4 separate regions of the Homo sapiens genome follow, and all the other regions are linked to region 4. The links come from fine-mapping of genetic effects on gene expression. A gene starts in region 4. Each other region holds a variant in brackets. All regions are shown on one strand. Distances are between the middles of the regions.

What was found. PIP is the estimated chance that this variant, and not a neighbour inherited with it, causes the effect. A credible set is the group of variants that fine-mapping cannot tell apart.
Region 1: its variant is the best candidate, but not a certain one, in a credible set for the expression of RAMP3 in whole blood (INTERVAL, PIP 0.57).
Region 2: its variant is the best candidate, but not a certain one, in a credible set for the expression of RAMP3 in tibial nerve (GTEx, PIP 0.81).
Region 3: its variant is the best candidate, but not a certain one, in a credible set for the expression of RAMP3 in whole blood (TOPMed, PIP 0.68).

The regions. Positions count from the first base shown.
Region 1 is chr7:45,251,505-45,256,970 of GRCh38, reverse strand. No RefSeq gene overlaps it. Among named protein-coding and RNA genes, the nearest start is that of RAMP3, 96 kb to the right of the region's middle. The variant G/A (reference allele first, on the strand shown) is at 2,847.
Region 2 is chr7:45,208,346-45,213,811 of GRCh38, reverse strand. No RefSeq gene overlaps it. Among named protein-coding and RNA genes, the nearest start is that of RAMP3, 53 kb to the right of the region's middle. The variant A/G (reference allele first, on the strand shown) is at 2,549.
Region 3 is chr7:45,238,286-45,243,751 of GRCh38, reverse strand. No RefSeq gene overlaps it. Among named protein-coding and RNA genes, the nearest start is that of RAMP3, 83 kb to the right of the region's middle. RefSeq lists enhancers at 1,531-2,030, 2,031-2,532. The variant G/A (reference allele first, on the strand shown) is at 3,091.
Region 4 is chr7:45,154,824-45,160,289 of GRCh38, reverse strand. It overlaps RAMP3 (receptor activity modifying protein 3), which reads right to left and starts at 2,499. Exons shown (of 3, transcript NM_005856.3): 1 at 2,404-2,499. The coding sequence starts at 2,461.

The DNA.
Region 1 (5,466 bases), 97 kb before region 4:
CCTAAAGCTTGGGTCCTCAGGGGCGGCTGGGCCCTCAGGAGAGACTAGCAGTGCCATGAGGCAGGCTACTCCCAAAGCCAGCCACCACTTCTTCATGACTCCTCCTGGGACTAGTTAGCTTCCATCCACAGAGGGCTGTGAAGTGGGTATGAACAGGGCATTACTGAGACTCTGTGGCCACCTGTCCCCTCAACAAACCTCTCCCATGTTTATTTCCTATCTCAAATTATGCTTGTGGTATGTGTCAAGTTGGCTAGACCATGACACCCAGATGTTTGGTCAAATGCCGGTCTAGATGTTGCTGTGAAGGTATGTTTTTAAATGAGATCAACGTTGAAACCAGCAGACTTTGAGTAACGCAGGTGACCCTCCACAGTGTGAGTGGGCCTCATCCAATCGGCTGAACATCTTCAGAGAAAAAGACTCAGGTCCCCCGAGGAAGAGGGAAGTCTGCCTCCAGACTGACTTTGGACTCAAAACTGTAATATCAACTCTTCCCTGAGTCTTCAGCCTGTTGGCCCGCCCGGCAGATGTCAGACTTGCTGGCCTCCATAATCACATGAGCCAATTCCTCTGTCTATAGATAAATATAGATAGATGGACATCGAGATAGAGCTGGAGAAATACAGATACAGACAGATTTCTACCACCTATTGATTCTGTTTATATGGACTACTACAGATTTTAATACCAAGGATGGTTCTAGAGGAACAGAATCTTAAGCATTTTGAGAATCCTTAAGATCTTAAATCTTCAGGAGCTTTCTGAATTGCTTCTGGGGTTTCTGGAATTGGCTCTCTAAGCTGATTACCTTTAAAGGCACTGATGACTACTCCTAATAGTAGAGAGAATGCAGATAGTCCATGGTGTGATGTAACAGTAGAGTTAGGTAAAACATCACTGTTGAATACTCATAATCAAAAATTTATTAAGAGCCAAGGATCTGAGTGGTCATGCATATGGTACCATCAAACATTTTTAATCAAACTAACAAGTATAATGAGATTGGTTGACTGCTCCTGATGTCACTGGACAAAGCGGGGAAAGAAAAGGATGAGCTCGGGAAATCAAATGTTCAGCTCAAGCTCCGCATAAATGACCTGAAAGCTTCTATCCCTGCCCTGAAAGAGACCCTTATTTTCTGTAGCTGCAGAGCTGAGATTGCTGAAAACCAAAACTATAATTGAATCACACCCTACAAGTGGCTGAATTACAACACAAATTGAATTGGACAACCAAGCAGGATGTCTACTCTTAAAATGAGAAATTGATTGGGAAGAAAATGATACTGAAAATTGGTATGGGTGATACAGGAGTTATTACCGAGGCATTACTGAGACTCTGTGGCCGTCTAAGAACAAATCACTTAGGCAAATAGTGAGGGCATGGGAGTCCTCGGTAAGATTTTGTTTTTAATGAAAAGCAGCCCCAAATCATTTTCTAACAAAGAGCAGCCTGTAATGTTGAGCTGCAGACATAGACAAGCAGGCTGGGAGCTTGCACGGGTGAATGCCGGCAGGAACTAGGGACTAGACATGTTCAAGATGGCGGCTCCAACTTCCCTTCTTTGCCAGCCACCTGTACAGTAAGGAGCAGACAAGATGGCTGCTGGCCAAGGGGAGAGTTTATTTGCCTTGTAAGACTAGGGTGCGGTGACCAGCCTTCCCCACACACCATGTAAACGTCATACCTGATGGAACCAATCTGTGAGCCCTACGTGAATCAGACACCCTCTCCTCAAGCCAGACTATAAAATCCCACACATCCCCTGCCAGCCAGTCTTTCCGCTTGGAAGTCCCTTCTTTCAATAGAGAGAGCTGTTCTCCTTTCTCTTTCTTCTGTCTATTAAGCCTCCACTCCTAAACTCCTCATGAGTGTTCGTGTCCTAAATTTCCCTGGCACAAGATGACGAACCCCAGTTATATACCCCAGACAAGGTAGCCACTTCATGGGGACATGTGGGAAGACCCTGATGAAACTGGAGACATTGATCCTCTGTGTTCTGGTAAGTCTTCCTTGCCAGTAGAAGCAGCCTCTCCAGCCCTGACTGAGGGGATTAACTCTGCATTGCCTGGGGAAGCTGCAAAGGCCTCCCCTGAGGCAGCTGCCATGCAAAACAGTGCTGATTCTCCTTGGGACCCAACCCCAACACCCCTTTTTGCTTCTAGAGCTAGAACTAGACCAGAGTCCCAGCATGCCTTTAACAGTAAGGATCAAAGTGTGCCCCATGAGGAGGTGTGCTGCACTCCCAAAGAACCACTTTAGCCAGGGATAGTGGCTCATGCCTGTACCTGTAATTCCAGCACTTTGAGAGGCCAAGGTGGGCGAATCACTTGAGGTCAGGAGTTCGAGGCCAGCCTGGCCAACATGGTGAAACCCCCGTCTCTACTAAAAATACAAAAATTAGCCAGGCATGGTAGTGGGTGCCTGTAATCCCAGCTACTCTGGAGGCTGAGGCATGAGAACCACTTGAACTGGGGAGGCGGAGGTTGCAGTGAGCTGAGATCACACCACTGCACTCCAGCCTGGGTGACAGTGAGACTCAAAAAATAATAATAATAATAAAAATACTTTGGTTTTCTAATTTATACAGACAGAAGTCTGGGAAGCATGCGTAGAAATGGATATTAAAGGTGTTGGATAATAGTGAAAGAAACATAAAAAGTTGGATTGGATCAGGCTGAATTTATTGATATGGGCTCCCTAAGCAGTGATTCTCTATTTAATGTTGCAGCTCAAGGAGTTAGAAAAGGTTCTGTTTGGTTGGTTGACTGCAACACGGGCCAGAAGGTGGCCTACAGTAAGTGAGCTTGAAATGATGGACCTGCCTTGACATGCTATAGAGG[G/A]AGGGATTCAAAGACTTAGGGAAGACCGGGCGCGGTGGCTCACGCCTGTAATCCCAGGACTTTGGGAGGCTAAGGCGGGTGGATCACGAGGTCAGGAGATCGAGACCATCGTGGCTAACACGGTGAAACCCCGTCTCTATTAAAAATACAAAAAAATTACCTGGGCGTGGCGGCGTGCACCTGTAGTCCCAGCTACACTGGAAGCTGAGGCAGGAGAATGGCGTGAACTCGGGAGGCGGAGCCTGCAGTGAGCCGAGATGGTGCCACTGCACTCCAGCCTGGCTGACAGAGCAAGACTCCGTCTCAAAAAAAAAAGACTTAGGGAAATTAGAATGTTCAAGTGGATTTATCATTTAAGATCTGCTCACCCTCCTGGGAGGGTACCTACACACCCATTCTCTTACTCCAATCAGGTGGCACCACCTACCATCCACAGTCCTTGAGAATCCCAGAAAAGAAACAGAGGAACGATATTTTCCTGACCTAGTCTATGATGTGAGCCATAAGGATTTGCCCAATAGTCCATGCCTGGTCTCTGCTCAGATCAGTACTGGGGTGTGGCTGCTGTTTCTGGCTGCTCTGAACTTGGAATGGACAAGAGAAACACATGCAGGAAATGGCAAGGCAGGATGTCTGCCCTGGAAAAGATGGAGAGAGACACAGAGAGACAGAGAGAAAAAGACACAAAGAAAGACACAGAGACAGACACAGAGAGACAGAGACAGGCAAAGAAAGAGAGAGACAGACAGAGAGATTGAGAGGAAAGAGAAAGAAAAACAAGATTGAGAGAGAAGAGAAGGAGACAGGGAGAGAGAAAGAGACTAAGAAAAAGAGTGCAGATGGCAGAGTTCTCCCAGGAGATCAGAGAAGCAAAGTGCAAGGAAAGGGCAGGAGAAGGTGGTCAGGTGCATTCCAGGACCAAACTTCACCTCAGTGTCCCTCAGACCTCAAGGGATGTGGCAGAACAAAGAGCAAACAGGGTGCCAGGGCTAGACCTGCAGGGTATCTCCTGGTTACCTAGGGACCACAGCCAAGGGAGGGGAGGGAGGAGCCCAGCATGGCCCTACCTACTGTAAACAGGCAACTACCCCTTTCTGAAAGGAGGGCAGAGCCAAACACTTCTGCTCCCCTAAACAGGAGCCAAGACTGTGCATGGATCAGTGATGCAATGGGAAGGAGTATCTCCTGGTCCCTCCCCATCTCTGTTTGTCTGTATCTCTCTCTCTCTCTCACATACACACACACACACACACACACACACACAGAGAGAGAGAGAGAGAGAGAGACAGAGAGACACAGAGACAGAGAGAGACAGAGAGACAGAGACAGAGAGAGAGAGAGAGAAATGCCCATTATGGACTAAAATTCATGTTAGAATCCTAACCCCCAAGGTGATGATATTTGGAAGTGAGACCTTTGGAGCTAATTAGGTCATGAGGGCAGAGCCACCATGAATGGGCTCAGCACCTTCATAAAAAAGGCCCGAGAGCGCTCCCTTGTCCCCTCCATCATGTGAGGACATCACAAGAAGGTGACCGTCTCCCAGCTGGAAGCAGGTCCCCACCAGTCACCCCACAGTGCTGGCACCCTGACCTGGGGCTTTCAGCCTCCAGAACTGTGAGAAATAAATTTCTACCGTTTATAAGCCACGTCAGCTATTGTATTCCATCATATGAGCCCCAGCTGGCTGAGACGGTGCCCCAGCCTCTCCCAGGGAGTTTAACTTAACTGCTTTTCTCCACTTATTGCCTGGAGCACTCCCATCCCTGGGGCTGGGTTCTGGATGAGAGGCCAGGGATGGCACAGGTGCTCAGTGCCTCTCCTCCCTGCACATTGGAGGCTGCTACTGGAGGAGTCATGGAGTCAGTTACTTCTCTACCTGGGGTGAGGGGGCTTCCAGGCAGCCCCATACAGCTCCACTGTAGGGTATGCCCTGCATGTGAGCAGGGGATGCGGTCTTCTCACGTATTCTCCACAGCCCCTAGAGACGTAGAAAGCCGCGGCCATTCAACATATGTCACTGGGCAGGCGGTGCCTCTAATACTGGTAATGCTAGAGGTGATGTTTTTGGTAAACAGGCGGGGTAAGATTTGCCGAGTTCCTTTTACTTTTTTTAACCTTTCCTTATAAGCATGCCTGTGTTGGGTTAACAGTATGGGTAGCACCGGTTTGTCTAAAACCAGCCACTCTCTAACCCTGAAGCCCTGGGAAAGTCCCTTCATTTCTCAGGAACAGTTTCTCCCCTGGCAGGTGGAATAAGTCATAATAGAACCAACTCAGACCTCCTGGAGACTGGGAATTTATAGGGATATTAGCATAATAAGAAACAAATTTGATCTTGGAAATATAAGGAATGGTAAGAATTCAAAGTGACCATGTGATGAATGAATAAGCATAATGAATAAAATATGATATGATTTTCTATAACGACTGTATCATCCCTCCCCAACCCATCCCCAGCAAGTCCATGGTATGCATTTGTGCTAAAATAAAGCATGTTACTAAAATAAAATCTTCACCCTGAAGGATTTCCAATTTCTCCTGTCGTATTACTGACTTACAATGATTGACTATTTCTTTGTTATTATTATTATTTTAGGCAGAGTCTCACTCTGTCACT
Region 2 (5,466 bases), 54 kb before region 4:
TAATAAAAAGCCAGGTGATGAACAGGCACCTGCTGAAAAGGAAGCCCAAATGGTAACAAGTATATGAAGAAATAATCACAGTTACTAGTAATAAGATAAAGAATAACTTTTAGTGAGGTGCCACTTTATACCCAACAGAATCCCACACACAAAAAAACTAGAAACGTGTATAATACCAAGTGTTGGCTAAGATGTGAAGAAGCAGGAATCCTCCTCCCCATCAAGAGGAGAGGGAACTGGTTTCAGCCATCTGGGAAAGCAATATGGTGGCATTCAGCAAATTAAGGAATTCAGCTTCTGGGTATACATCCTAAAGAGACTCTCAGAGAGCTTCACTCAAATGCCCATAGAGGATGCTGCTCATCACAGGATTAACTGCCCTAGGGCACTGAGCACAGCCCAGGTCAATGATGATAAAAGGAGGAGAATGGCCAAGAAAAGGCACTCTAGGCCTGTGCAACAGGACTGGTTGATGGACCCAACACTCACTCCCATCCCCTTATCTACCTCCATTGTGGCACCTGGAAAACATAAATATCCCCTCTTTCCAAATGCCCATGAGGGTGGGGCGGCTGCCGAGCCTGCTGAGAAGTGTGGGGAACCTCTGCTTCCTCCAATGGCTGACAGCACCCCCTTCACCGCACACACAGCAGCAGCGAGACGGGGTCCCGGGCACTGGGGACAGCCACAAAAGGGAGAGCGTTCACATTCAACCCTTCAACTGGATGTTTTTGCTCTCCCTGGCATTTCATTTTTATGATCTCTTTCTTGTCCTCTGAACGCCTGTTCACAGGCATCCTGCTCATTTGGATGTGACGTCTGCTCCTGCCCCGCCTAGAATAGCCCTTCTAGTGCTGCTACTGCTGTCTGCTTTGTCTGCTTCAGTCTCTGTTGTTCAGTTTGGAGGCTCTCCTTGAAGTCAGCCGATTCTTGGCTGAATGTGAATATTTAAGGGGAGAACATTAGAACACTGGCTGGAAGCTCCCCAGGAGAGGGCGGGGCCTGGGCACTGAGGTGCCATGGATGGGACAATCACATCCTGCCCCACAACCTCCCAGGGGAGCCCCAGAGGGCAGCATCCACAGCTCTGTCCTCTGAGTTGATCAGTTTTCTCAGCGTAGGAAGGGGGATTTTCCAGTCTGCATATGGAGGAATGGAACATTCTAGAAGCCCAGCAAGAAAAGCAGCTGGAGCTCACCTTTCACAGTCTCACTTATTCACCTTCCACCCCAGCAGGTCTCCTGTAGGGTGGGACAAGGCTCAGGGACTTAACCAGCCCACAGCCCACCTGGGCCAGCGTCCTCACTTCCCTCCAGTTCTGAGCCTCTCTGGGGTCTGGGGCCCCATGGCTTGCTCCCCACTGGCCCACCCAGGTTTGTAGGTCTCACCTTCCCTCACTCTGCAAAGTTCAGCCACTTTCTGTCTCCCAAAATCTTGCTGACATCTCTCCTTGGCTGTCATTCCCTTTTTTATTCTCTTTGTCCTTGTATGTTCCTTCTCTGTTCATTGAGTGGAATTTGGGGAAATGAATGTTACTCCACCACACTTAACAAAATTCCCATCCATGAGTTTCTACCACCCGCCTGGGGTTCTCTCCCAACTGGGGAAGAAAGGGGAGAAGGACTGGGGTCATACAGGGCAATCTGCCAGAATCTGCCCATGTCTGCACCCTCTGTTCCTATTTCCCCTTCTTCGTATCATGCCCTGTGTCCTCAGACCTCCAAGCTCCACACAAAATGGGAGGTGTGAAATTTCTACCTCCCTGTCCTAGCACAATGGAGCCTGGCCTGCTAGACTCTTGCCTCACTAGAAATCCTAGTCAGTCTCAAAACTCAAAGCCAAGCAATGGCATTTGTGTCCTACCCACCATCTGAGTGTTATTAAATCAGTAGGTGGGAGCCACAGGACTACATGATCTGGGGAGAAATAAAAATTCATTGGTTTAATGTTTTGAATGGCCACCAGTATACTTCATGCTACAGGGGGCATGTGAAACAGAAGACTTTGGGCCTATCAGCTTTTCTGGGGAGGTGAGGAGCTCAGAACGGGAGGATGAGATGTTAATTAGGCCAGAGGAGAAGGAAGGAGGAAACCAAATGAGCAAATGGCCCAAGACAGGTGACTTCTCAGCACTCCCACAGCAGCAGCCATTCCCATGCCAGTCCTCAGTCTGATGTGTCAGATCTCAGGGCTTCTACTCATTCCCAGGGCAGAAAGTATGGCCATCACATGAAGCAATGGTAGGCATCCAGGACAAATTTGAGGATTTTACATTCAAAATTCATGTCCTAGAATGGCTCCGCCTTGACTTGTAAACACCAATGTTTAAAAGTCACTACCCTCTCAGGCCCTCAGTCAATCCCCGGGCAGTGCCAAGCTTTCTCCTACATCCAGACATCAGAGCCACACAGAGTGAAGGCACCAGGTCAGACGATCATCTGAGCTTTCCCTCAAAGCTGCTGCCCACACAGCCCAAGCTGACCTTAGTGGGGATCACACAGCAGTTGCGTCATGAGTGGACACTTTTCAAATGAAAGCTCTTGGGAAC[A/G]TCTCAGGAGACAATGGAGGGAAACCCACCTTCTTCTAATGAGCTTCCTCTCTGTCAAGTCCTGCACGGTGCCAGGCATAGGTGGGGCTTCCAGGATAATATCCTTTAATTTTAGGGGAATCACATGTAGTGTGGCCCCCTGGGCAAGAACAGGAAATCCTGCTAGATATAACTTGGTGTGTTTTATAGCTCCTGCAACTGTTTGAGAGACCAATATCAAATTGAAGGTCTGGGAGCAACTACACCTAACAATGAGACTCTGTCCCAGAAACAACAGCTTCCACTCTGCAGTCCCAGACAAAAATCCTGTCATTTCTGGTAGCCACGCATTAACTCAAGCGCTCAAGAATGCAGTCACAAAATGTACCTAATGACTCCCACATCTAGCTCTTGGCCTAAATCTCTCACCTAAGCTTCAGATTTAGATGTGAACCCAACATACCTCAAACCTAATGTGTCTAGAACAGAACTCATACTGGTGGGAGGAGGTCAGGGAGACTTTACAGATGAGGAAATCTTTAAATTGGGCCTTGCAGCAGAGTAGGAGGCAGAGATGGGAAAGAGGATGGAGAGAAGGTGGGAACACATTTGAGAAAAATTTAGATGGTAGAATCAATAGGGTTTGAAGACTGATTGGATGTGGCATTGGGGGAGGGCTATTAGGGGAATTCAATAGGTTTCAGCAACACATTTTTAAATACTCATTTTTGAAATAGATAATACATGTACATGGTTTAATATTCAAGGACTACAAAAAGGCATATCATGAAGAGTGGGTATTCTTTCCACGCCCATACCCCAGGCATCTGTCCCCTCACTGAGTGGGTCTAGGAGGGGCCACGAAGCATAACGTCTCTGCACCTGGGTCTTTTCACCCGATAACACACAGGGAAGACTATCCCCACTCAACACGCATCAAATGGACCACATTGCATTTGTACTTAACTAGAATTCGGTTCCTGAACATTTAAGTTGCTCTCTAGCTTTTGCTGCAATAAATATCCTTACAGATATATATGTGCAAGTGTATCAGTAAGATGAATTTCTTCAAGTGAAATTGATGAGTCAAACGTATATGCATTTCCAGTGGTTTTTGTTTTTTGGTTTTGGATTTTGGGTTTTCTTGAGACAGCGTCTCACTCTGTTGCCCAGGCAACAGTGGCACGATCACAGCTCACTGCAGCTTCAACCTCCCAGGCTCAAGCCATCCTCCCACCTCAGCCTCCTGAGTAGCTGGGACTACAGGCATGTACCACCATGCCCAGCTAAATTTTTTTTGTAGAGTTGTGGTCTCCCTACATTGCCCAGGCTGGTCTCAAACTCCTGAGTTTAAGCAATCCTCCTGTCTCTGTCTCCCAGAGTGCTGGGATTACAGGCATGAGCTACTATGCCTGGCCTCCAATGTTGTGCGATAGATACTGCCAAATTGCCCTCCACAAACAGTGTCCCAATTTATACCCCCAGCAGCAACATATGAGAGTAACTTTTTCCTTGCACCTTCCCTGACACAGTGTATTATCACACCTTTAGACTTTTTTTTTTTCTTTAGACAGAGTTTCGCTCTTGTTGCCCAGGATTTAGTGCAATGGCACGATCTCGGCTCACAGCAACTTCCGCCTCCCAGGTTCAAGCCATTCTCCTGCCTCAGCCTCCAGAGTAGCTGGGATTACAGGCATGCACCACCACGCCCGGCTAATTTTGTATTTTTATTGGAGACGGGGTTTCTCCATGTTGGTCAGGCTGGTCTCCAACTCCTGACCTCAGGTGATCCGCCCGCCTCAGCCTCCCAAAGTGCTGGGATTACAGGCATGAGCCACCACACCCAGCCACCTTTAGACTTTTGCCAGTCGGATAAAGAATAATGACAACTTCATACAGTTTAAATTGTGTTATTTCTTATTTTAATGAGGTTGAACATCTCTTCACCTGTGTAAAAGTTATTTCAATAAAATAATCCCATTGACACCTACTATATCCTAGGTATTGGGCTTAGTAGAAAGGACAAAAATCAGAACGACTCCTGTTTCTGCCTTAGCTAACTTGGTGGATGACTATGTCACTCACTGAATACAAGAAGAGGCAGAATCTCAGTAGAGATGTGAAGGGGTTGAGAAGAGAGAACAGGAAGATGTAATAGTCCAGATGAGAAAATACACTGGTCTAAACTAGCCCCGTGGCAGAAGGAACAAAGAAAGAAAGGATTAAAGCCGTAGAAAGAATAAACTTTGGGGACTACATGGGTGTGGAATCTGGGAGAGGGAGGAGTCATGTATTATTCTTCAGCTCTGGGTTAGAGAGTTTAATAAAAGATGGATCCATTTCCTGAGAAAGAAACACAATAGGAAATGCAGGCATTGAAGAGGAGATTATAAGACTAGGATATATGCTGCAAGTCAAGGTGCAGTGACAGGAAATGTAGTTACCTGCCAGTCTGAAAAAGCAAGAAAGGAAAGGAAGAAAGGAGGGAGGGAGGAAGGAAAGGAGAGACAATTTATAAAATACAACCGTTTTCAAAATATTGGACATCAAATAATGAAGGACAATGGTCCCTGAGAGCTGGAAAACAAGCAAGATGAGCCCTAGGATGCCCCAGCTTCCTGTCTTAGGAGAATTTTCAGGTTGTAGAATAGAGAGGGGGAGTTGAGAATACGGAGCTGAGAAACTCAGGGGACTAGAGTTTTCAGGACATGTTACAAGATGTGATACAAGCTGCACAGAGAGAGAGTTCTGAAGATATGCAGAGGGTTCTCCTTGAGTCTTCAGTTAAAAATGATCAGTACATGCATGAAGAAACTACCCAAAGCCAGGAAAAGAGCCATTTCAAAGGGTTAGAGAAAATAGGATCCAGTATTTACACTACCCCAGTACCACAGAGCTGGTAACAGTACCTATTCCCACCAGCCAAATTGGAAAACCTT
Region 3 (5,466 bases), 83 kb before region 4:
GTCCAGTCAGAGGGAGGTCAACACACATGCACAGTGACAGCGGGGGATGGGAATAAAGTCATCCCAGGCTAAGGAAGCAGGTGAATTTTACTATGAGGATAGTGTGCTGATTTAACACAGACTGGATGTGGCAGGAGGCTTGTCAGCTGGAGAGTTTACTTATAATCCCAAATGTCTGCGTCCAAGTCCTACATACAGAGGCATACACGCACATGCAAAGCACACACAGAAACACGGAGGCATGCATGTATGTGGGCACAGACACACAGATGCACATGAACATGCACTCACACACACACACACAAAGACACACACCATGCTCATGCACAGACACAGATGCACGCAAACATCCACACAGAGATACACCCAGACACACGTACACAAAAAAAACACAGAGACATGCATACACAGACACTCAAATACACACAGACACACATGCACACACATGTGCACACACACATGAGGAACCTAGTATCCCTCAGCGCCTTTTCGGTAAGGTCCCGGGGAAATGTGAGTACAGCAGACATTTGTCCTTCCTAGGAGGTTTTGGATCAGAACACTTAGCTCAGCCCTGTGAGCCTGATGACCCTCAGGGGACACTTGCCCGGGCACAGTGACAGAGGGTGTAGAACCAACCAGGACAGGTGGCCCCCTTTCTTCCGTCTCCCAGGCTCAATGGGCTCTCTGCACTTTACCACTCCAGTGACAAGAACAGCCTGTCCAAAAAAAAGCAAACAGCTGGAGGGTAACACACCAGAAGGTATGCCCTTACCTAGAGCAGAGAATGGGCACCACCTCCTGGGCCCTGCAGGACACAGGTAGGTAGCTGCAGCCTGGAGCCAGCACCCATTCACCACACCCACAGGGCTGAGCCAACCAGGCCCTGTTCAGCCTTGCCTGTTGTAGAGACCTCAGCGCACTTCACCAACCAGCACTTCAGGGTCTTTGCCCAGGCTGTGCGCCTGACAAGCATACCCTTCACCTTCTGAGCTTTAGGTCTGGCCATCAGTGTCACCTCCTCAGAATAGAGTCCTGGACATTTTAATATTATGTCATCTAGACTCTAGATCCCCCTAGAGGATGCTGTTTTTTGTTTGTTTGTTTGTTTGCTTGCTTGCTTGCTTGCTTGCTTGCTTGCTTGCTTGCTTGCTTGCTTGCTTGCTTTCAGGCAGCCAGTCCAAGCGGCTTCCAGCCATCCGCTCTCCTCACTTCCTTCAGTGGCTCTGATCTCTGCTCAGCTTGCAAAGCCTTTGCTCTGTCTTACATACGCACAGCTCAGAGGTGAGCCCTGGACTGCAGCCCTCCACAGAGGTGAGGGACCCTCCTGCCAGGGCTCCTTTTCCTGGTTTGGCTGAGTGGAGAGGGCAGGGTTTCTTTCAGAGCTGTAACTGCTAACATCAGCTCAGCACAAAGCTCCACAGCTCCAGCAAAGAGGGAGAGCAAAGATCTTCCGCATTCATGGGAACTAGAGGCCCTATCCTTCTTCCTTTGGCTGGAAAGACGGGGTTTCTGTTGGAGTTTTGGTCTCTGCTGCCACTGCACATTTCTGCACCTGGAACCAGCCCTTGGGTTCAGAATGAGAGAGCAAAGAAAAAAACATGGGGAACTAACTCACTCTGTGGGTCTCTAAATCAAGTTTTGACTATTCCACATTCAGTGGCTTTGTTTACTTCTCTGAGTCCTTGGGTAATTGTACTTTTATTTTGCCAGTGGTTTCTGTTGCAATCAGCATCATAGGGAGGCAGTGGTGGGGCCTCACCAGCTAGGTCCAACCAGGAACCCCAGCAAGTGGCCATTCAGGCAGGCTCCATGGTGATTCGAGGTGGCTGAGTGGACAACGAGGGAAGGGGTTTGCTGTGCTCAACAGAGAGACAAGCAAGGCACCTGCTGGGGCCAAACAGCACTCAGAGACTGAAGGGAGACGGAAGAAAAAGCCACAGGGCAAGCTTCTCAGAAGGCGGCTCCACACCCCTCCTCCATCCTGCTCACTCCCAGAGCCATCCTTAATGTGTGGACCCCAGTTCTCAAGGCATGGGGTGCCCCACCTGCTCTCCATGCCAGGGTGTCAGGCACCTCCAGGCAAAATTCCTTCCCCGCCCCTGCTCCCTTAAAGTAACTTCTTTTGTTCCTCCAAGGGCTTGGCCCACTGGTCACTTGCCACCAGGGATCACCAGGATCCACTTCGCCCCATGCTGGCCCTTATAACCATTTCCCCGGCAAAGACCCAAGAGCAAGTCTTTCCATGTCCCTGGAGTACAATCAAAGACTGGAAGCTCCCTTCCCCTCCACCGCCCTTGGGCAGGGTGTGGCCCTCCTATCAACTCTGCTGAATCATCCCTGCCCCATCCACACCACCTGGCCTCCACCTCGCACTTCTGCCTGCCTTCTCAGGGATGCTCCTTCCCCGACGGCTGGACCCACTCCCTCCCTAAGGCTGCTCTCTCTTCACCTTCTGTTCACACATGCCTTGAACACTCTCTATCCCTGCCTGCCCCTCCAAGCCCATCAGCATGGTCTGATCTCCAAGCTCACCTCTCTGTTCAAGCATCCTTGGTGGTCTTCTTCTTACCAGCAAGCTCCAAACCTGTCCACATGGTCTGGTCTCTGTACTCTCCTCTCAGCTCCAGCCCCTCTGGGACACCCTCTCTTCCCTGGGCATCCCACCTGGGCATGGGGAGACTCTCCGAGGGTCCTTGCTCCTGTCAGGCTCACCCCAGCCCTGCTGCTGGGGCTGCCCGAGTGCCATTTCAGTCATGAGCCTTGCTCACCTGGATGGTGGAATTCTATTTCACGTCCTGAATTGTTCACACTGCCATCGCATCATGTGTACTTTATTATCTGCTTTGTTTAAGGACAAATCTTGGGAAGAAAGATAAATTAAGAGGTAAAGACTAGAAACCAATAAGCTTAGTGTCAAAGATATTAATTTTTCCCAGAAATAAGACTTGGGAGGGATTATCCAATGCCATTTTCCCGCTATCATAGGAAGGCAGGCTGTCTCCCCTAGTGAATGCACTTACCCTTCCCCCACGTTGCTCCCCTTAATTGCTGGGGGACATTCTCATTTAATAATTTTTACTCTGGTGGTTT[G/A]CATATCTCTAGAAAACTGCAGCTGAAATAATGAGATAAACAAATGAATTTCAGTGAGGTGGGGCAGGGGAGTGTCTCTCTAATTCTGAACCAAGCGGAAGGGGAGACTTCCTTTCCTAACTCAGAAAAAAACTCTTAAATGGAATGTTGTATAAATTGTAGAAACCTTTTTTAAAAACAAGCTAGCAGGAAACTGAGGAAGTTTTGCTTTTAATAAAATAGATATAACAATAGAGCAAATAACATTTATATCTACTGGAAAACCGCTAAGGGCGGGGCCCCCAGGAAATGAGACAGGAGTTGACAGAGACAGCCTTGGGCCCAGGAGTCCCGCCCAGTGAGGGGTAGTGGCGGCTGCACTTAGATGCGATTATTGTGCTTACATAGTGAAGGAATGTTTAAGTAATAATTTTGTAATAATTTTGAAATAATATTGACTAACACCCAACTAGACCTCCTCCTCCATAAATTACTATATTTAAAGAGCTCACAACCAAATATGAGAACATGACTTTTCAACATTTTGAAATTCACTCCTTAAAAAATAAAAATAAGAAAACATCTTGACTTCTAAAAATATGAATAAAAGAACTATTGACTTTATATTTTGTGTGTGCAAAAGGAAATTTTCTTGTGAATATCAAAGAAACAAAATATTTTCCCAGCAGTGCTTGGACTATATCTTCTTAAGCAAAGAAAAAAGAGAGTATACATTAGCAGTGCAAGGGGGCCAATTTAAGAAAGAAGTTGAATTGTGCACAAAAAGGTTGTCCACTTTACACTTCCCTCTAGAAGTTAAGACGTGTTCTTCCCTGCCTGGCATCCCCAGTGCCTGTGTCCCGAGGGCTGACCCCATCCCCTAGCTCAGGGCTGTGCCCACCATGAACTCCCTTCACTCTGAATGGTGGCTGACTCAGGGATGAGCCTGTAGCCCGTCCGTGGCAACTGGCACCACTCCCAGACTCTTGGTGAAGCTGTCAGGCAGGAGAACCCACTCCACGGGAATGAGTAACCAATGGAATGTATCTCTTCTGAGATGCTGAAGGCATATTTGCCCAGAAGAGGAGGCTCAACCAGGCCAGGGCGCTGAGGGGGCTAGACCAGTCCCCATGATGTTCCCAGCAGCAAGACACAGCTGGGCCCACAGTTCACTTTCAGCAAAAAAGGTTGTTCCCTGTGGACTTGTTCCAGGAACAAAACTGAGTCCGGCTGAGTTTTCTTATGGCCCAGTAATGAGAAGCAGACAAACTAGGAAAGAAGGGAATTTATTGCTGTAACCAGCTATAGGGAGAAGGCCAGAGATAATTCCACCAGACCAACTCAAAGTGTTACAATTTTCTTAGTGCTTATACAGGTTAGGGTCATGTGCCTATGAGCGGTATCACATTTGCCTAAGTCTACAGGTAACTAATTTTGTTTTAACTAGAAGGTCAGAGGCCAAAAAAAAAATGCTTTCTAAGTCTGATCAGGCTGTGAGGGCCCTAGTACCTTCAAGGCCTGTCTCCTAAATTCTAATTAGTGAGGACTGTGGTACCGGAGTGATTATTTCTAGCTATCTCATTTACAGCTTGGTCAGGACAGCTGCCTTCAATTCTCTAATAAATCTATTTAAACAGCTGCCTGTGTTCCCTTGACTCATCTCAGATTTTGCCGACCTGAGACAGGTCCTGGCACGAGGAATGGAAGGCTGTCTCCGTTATTTTGACTTGCTCCAGGTTAGGGAAAAGTCTGTGCAAGGCTCCTACTGACCATATGTTTCCTTTCTAGCTTTGATGTCTGGGCATCAGTTTCCCCAGGTTTAATTATTTGCTCAATGTTAAGGCAGTGCTGTGGAAATTTGTCTGTGTAACTGTCGGAGAATTGGCCTGCCACAGACCGACACCTCCCGAGAGCCTATTTACAGTGGAACCTGTGGGGGGTGAATTTTTCATGGAGCCTCAAAGGTAGAGAGAAGAGAGAGCCAGGGCAGAGGAGAGAAATGTGCAGCAACGATGGGGAGAAACCTAAAGAACAAAGTCTGAAATCACAAATGCAGGTCACTGCAAATCCAAATTCGATTCTTTTCAGTCCTCATGAACAATGAATGCATAGTTTGAAACAAAAATGGAAATACTGGATAAATACAGCTAGAAGGTAGAAGGTAGGTAGGCAGGTAGATATGTCAACCTAAATAACAGAAAAAGTCTTTAAAAGAAAAGATATTTGAAAGACCAGAACTCCTTAGTGAAATGATTTGAATAGTGGAAGAGCCTAAGGAATGACTAGCAAGGATGGACATCAGAAATGGGCATGAGCACGGGACAGTGGGTGAACTCGGTGGGAAAAGAGCAGATGTGTGTCTGTCGGGCCTCATGGAGGGACTCCTTGGTGCCTGAT
Region 4 (5,466 bases):
CATGATCTCGGCTCACTGCAATCTCCGCCTTCCAGGTTCAAGCGATTCCTCTGCCTCAGCCTCCTGAGTAGCTGAGACTACAGGTATGCACCACCACACCCGGCTAATATTTTGTATTTTTAGTAGAGACGGAGTTTCACCATGTTGGCCAGGATGGTCTCGATCTCCTGACCTCGAGATCTGCCCGCCTTGGCCTCCCAAAGTGCTGGGATTACAGGCGTGAGCCACCGCACCCGGCCGGCCACCTCCAAGTCTTTAATTCACCAGAGTTACTGCTATCCAACCATGGCCCTTGGGCCCACTTGATTCAGTAGAATCAATATGACCACAGGTAACATGGCAGCAGGACATCATTTAATGATAAAAACGATGGTACCATGTTCATACGCTTGCACACACAGGCACACACACTATGGTGCTCCATCTTTGGGTGCTGTGAGTGAGCCTCATGAGGCCCAGTGCAGTCACTGGTGGGTGCCTTCCCATACCTCCCCTTGTTTAAGCATGAACCCTTCCACCCCACAATCCCATGCCCAACACAAGGTGATAGGGACTAAACTGAATGGAATCAAACTGACGGTCTCAGCAGCCCTTTACAGATTGCTATTATTACATCTACATTGCAGCTCGGAAACTGAGGCCAGTGAGTGCTTTATAATCTTGGGATCATGATCAGGATTTTCACCCAGACCAGAAGAGTCCAGTCAAGAGCTGGGCACCACAGCAAAGTGTCCTGCTGAGTAGACAACTGCTGGACTTCGCATCCCCACAGCCCCACACAGCATCAAATGCTTTCTGGAAAAAGGTCTGGAATTCTCAAAGAAGCCCCAGAGGCCTGCACCCTCCCTGCTGGTCCTCCTGAGCTAGTCCTCAGTCAAGAGGAACCCACCCAGCTCCTTCCTTCCAGACACAGCAGCATCCAGGGCAGATGTGGGTTCCAGTCCCGGATACCTCTGACACATCGGCCTGGGACCATGAGCAAGTTTTACCTCTCCCTGAATCTCACTCTGGCCAGTCGAACACTGGGAGGGTCTGCTGAGAAGCTGGACCTGGTCCCTATTCTGGCCAGGGAGCGTGAACCCATGTCCCATTGGAGGGGGACAGTCAGGACCAACACAACAGGACAAAGAAGTGGCCCTCAGGAACTGGGTCCACGAGAGACAGGATTATTAAGGGGGGATTCTGTGCAGGCGGAAGCCTGTGGTCCTTCTCAATTTGATACTGGAGATGATCAGGAAAGCCTCAGCTTCTCCCAGAATGAATTGAGAGGACCTTCCTTCCACTATAGCGACCAAGATCTCCACCTAAGGGGCGCTCACTGGAAGTTTGCTGAAATCCCAAATCAGCATGCTCCTGATTTCAGAAGCTGCCATCCACCTTTGCACTTCAACACAAAATCCACCACATCCTAGGCTCCAGCCCTGGAACACCAAATGAAGCCACACAAGTTCTGCACACCAAGACCTCTTCAATGGAAGGAAAATGACCACTGAGTTTGGTCCACCCTTTTCCCACCTCCCGTACCAAATCCCAAATCATCAAAACAGGCCCAACTCTGCATCTTACAGCCAGGGAAACTGGGGACCACCAGGCCAGGGCCCTCCATCACCAATGTCCCCCCCAGAACTGGCCAGGCTCAGTCACCACTCAGTGGACCCCAGCCCTCAGCAAGCACTCTTCCCCAACAGCCTTTACACACATTCTCTCTCTCTCTCTCTCTCTTACTTTTTCTTGGATAATTTCTTTAGCAAGGTACTTCAAAACAAGCTTTTAGTTTAATCTATTTCCATTTTGTGAGCAATGGTTCTTCCTAGAGTCCTGATTTCTTGCCGAAGAAGGCATTAGGAGAGGATGGCTCAGAGAGTCGCCCCGCTTCCCCTCTCAGCCAGTTCCAGGACACACACAGGCGTCCACACACTGAGGGGCCCTGGGAGGACCAGCTACCCAGTCCGGAGTCCACCCGCCCACGCCCCTGTGAGTGGTGGGCAGGCACTCAATGCCAGGACAGAGAGCTCACTACCTTACAGACAGCCCACCCTGGGGGATAAGGGGTAAAGAGCCAGACCTGGTCCACCTCTTCTCGCCCACCCTGAGGCGACCCCAGAACCGGGGCGTGGGGGGACATCACAACTAGAAGGACCGGGGGCTGCCGGACCCTGCCGTCAGAAGACCCCGGAGGGGGCCCTGTGCCTCCCTTGCCCGCCAGAGTCCTTCGCCTTCAGCTTCTCCCGGGTGGAACCCTCCCGCAGAGCCTGGGAATCCCGCCAGGGTCACTGTGCGCCCCTCCCGAGCTCCGGGGCAAGGGAAGGACCGCGGCGCAGGTGCGGGAAGGCGCGGGTCCACCCGGGTCCGGTGAACCCCGAGGAGTGGGGGCGCCCCCGGTGCGGGCCGTCGCCCCCTTACCGCAGAGCAGCAGCAGCAACGGGAGAAGTTGCGGGCGCCGCAGCGCTCCAGTCTCCATGGCTGGCCGGCCGCAGCTGGGTCACGCTCGGTCCCGCTGGGGGCGCGGCTGGGGGACGCCCGGTTGGGGTTGGGGTGGGGCGGGGCCTCAGGGGGTCCGCCCTCAGGCCGCACCCCCAGACCACGCCTGCGGCCGTGCCCCGTTGCCTCCAGATGTGGGGTGCAGTCCCTGCAGGCGCGCCGGGTGGGAGGGATGGGGGCGGCTGGAGTCTCAGCGGGGTGAGAGGGGGGCGAGGGCAGGGTTTCGAGCTGGGGACAAGCTGGGGTAAGGTGGGGTGCCGGCTGATGGGCTCTGAGGGCGGGGCTGGGGTGCTGAGCTGCAAAGGAGCTTTTTGGGAGCAGATTGTAGGGGCAGACTGGGAGGTGAGCTGGGGTGAGCGTGGGGGCCGGCTGACGGTGGGCTGGGATGCAGGCTGGAGAGACTTGGGGAACTTCCGTCCAGGCTCAGGGGCAGAGGGTGGGGGTAGACCGGGGAGGGAGCTGAGGTGAGGATGAAGCGCTGGCTGATGATGGCCTAGAGGAGTCTGGGGGTAGACTGGAGGAAGGTGGACCTGGGAGTGGGCTAGGTGTGCCCTGGCCGAAAGTAGACCAGAGTCCAGAGCTGCCCCCAGGCAGGGAGGGGAACTTTGAGCAGAGATACATCTAGGAGCCAGGTCTCCAAAGGTCAGGAAAGTGCATAAAAGAGGTTGGGGGGTGTGTGTGTGTGCGTCTGTGTGTGTGCGTGTGTGTGTTGTTCATGGAGTACGTGTGTGTGATGTGCATGTGGGGTGTGTGTAGATGCATGTGTGTGCATGGAGTGTGTGATGTATGGTGTGTGTGTGGCATGTGTGTGTTTGAGTCTGAGACAAGGTGTGTTTGTGAGTGTATGCTTGGGAAACAGTGTGTATGAGAGAGACTGGAGGGTGTGGCAACTACACACACAGAGACGTATCACACACCAAGAACCAAGCCACAAGCAAACCAAGGGACAGGAGAGTATCTGGCACCACCAAAGACCTGGCCTTGAAGAGTGTCAGGGTCCCTGAGGCGAAGGAGGGCCTCAGTTTCTCCAGCCACAGGTCACTTGGCCAGATGGGTCACCTCTGTCACCCTCAGCCCCTAGCACAGGCCCTGGCTCCAGTGGACACTTAATGGTGTCTTAAGAATTGTCACTGGTCAGGACTTCCGAGAGCCAGCTAGAGGCACCTCTCTGCCCTCCAGGGCCCACCCACCACCCCTGGGGGCACATGCTGGTCTGAGGTTGGGGCACAGGCCCAGGCTCCTACATGGATGGGCCCTCCACTCCTCTGAGCCGTAGGTACTGCTACCTTCCCAGGAGCTGAGCTGAACTTCTCCTGGCTTAGAAAGACCCACTTTATTTAACAAGACCCTTATTCGGGAGAAGAACTTTCTGTGCTTTTTTACTGAAGAAATTCTGATTACAGCCAGAATTAATTCAAAGGAGTCAAAACTAATTAAAATTGATCATTTGTCCTGCCTTCTGCCTGAGGGGTGGGCAGCAGGTGTAGGGGTGGCCACAGAGCCTCTAGTGAGACTGATGGTGCCCACAGCCAGGCCTTCTGCCCACAGGCCAGGGGTCATAAAACAAGCTGACCAGGGCAGCAGGGGGCTGGCTTACACACACGCACACCCTACACCAGCCAAGACAAACCAAGAGGATGGTCCAGGCCCAGGTGTCCACCCACATCCCACACAGACTCGGCCCTACAGCTCTCTCCAGGAGAGTCTTAGTCTCCACTCGGTCCCACAGCCCCAAAGGCGGTTGCACATAGCTTGCAGGCTGGAACAGTAGGATGGGGTTGTCAGGTGGGAGGGGGGCAGCCAGTTCCCCCAAGCCTGCACCAGGGAGCAATGCTCCCTTTCCTGGACTCCCCACCCTGGCTCTGCAGTGGGGAAGCCCTGGCCATTCTACAGAGTTGGGTTCCAACACCTCTCCTCCATGGAACCAACCATGCCCCAACAAACTCCCAGGGAGTTGTGTCTACTGCCCCTAGGTCCCTCTAAGGCAGGGCCCTCACTTCTCCTCTCTGTGCCCAGTGGTGCCCATGGCCTCTGCAGGGCAGGTGGGTTTAACACAGGCTGTGAGGAGCTGAGCCATGGGAGAGAGGGACCTGCCCCTTCCACGGTGCATCCCCCCGACCCTGAGTGTGGAAAGGCTGCCGCCATAAATGAGATTGACCATGGGGTGTGCCCTGGACAGCACCTGTCTCCCTGCTTGTCCCTCGGTGGGTGCTGGCCCCGGCACCATTCCCTGTGTCTGCGATCCTGTGTGCACTGGGGTCCTCTCAGGAATCCCCTCTTAGCGTTCATAATTATTTATTTATTTTATTTATTTATTTATTTATTTATTTATATTTTTTTTAGAAGGAGTTTCATTGTTATTGCCCAGGCTGGAGTGCAATGGCATGATCTTGGCTCACTGCAACCTCTGCCTCCGGGGCTCAAGAAATTATCTTGCCTCAGCCTCCCGAGTAGCTGGGATTACAGGCTTGTGCTACCATGCCCGGCTAATTTTTGTATTTTTAGTAGAGACGGGGTTTCTCCATGTTGGTCAGGCTGGTCGCGAACTCCCGACCTCAGGTGATCCTCCTGCCTCGACCTCCCACAGTGCTGGGATTACAGGCGTGAGCCACCGCGCCCGGCCGGTTCATAATTCTTTACACCAAACTTCCCCATTCAGGTTGCGGTGTAGTCTCTCTCCTGATCAAGCCCTGATTCACCATTATCATGATATTTATTCTGTGATTCCTCTTATTCTTAAATAGTTGTAAGAGAACATTTTCTTGACACTCAAGTGGCCTCTTCTAAGAGGAAGAAATAACATCCTGGTGTTTCTACCAGATCAGGGGAACACATGGCCGCTGGGCCTTCACTCTCCCTGGAAGTAATGCTTCTGCCCGGAGTCCACGTGTCCAGGCAAGGGCCTGAGCACAGAACCTGGTGAGGTTTGGGATCTGGTTCTGCTTGCTCTGGGGCTAGACTTCAGGAGGGTGGGGGTTGAGAAGG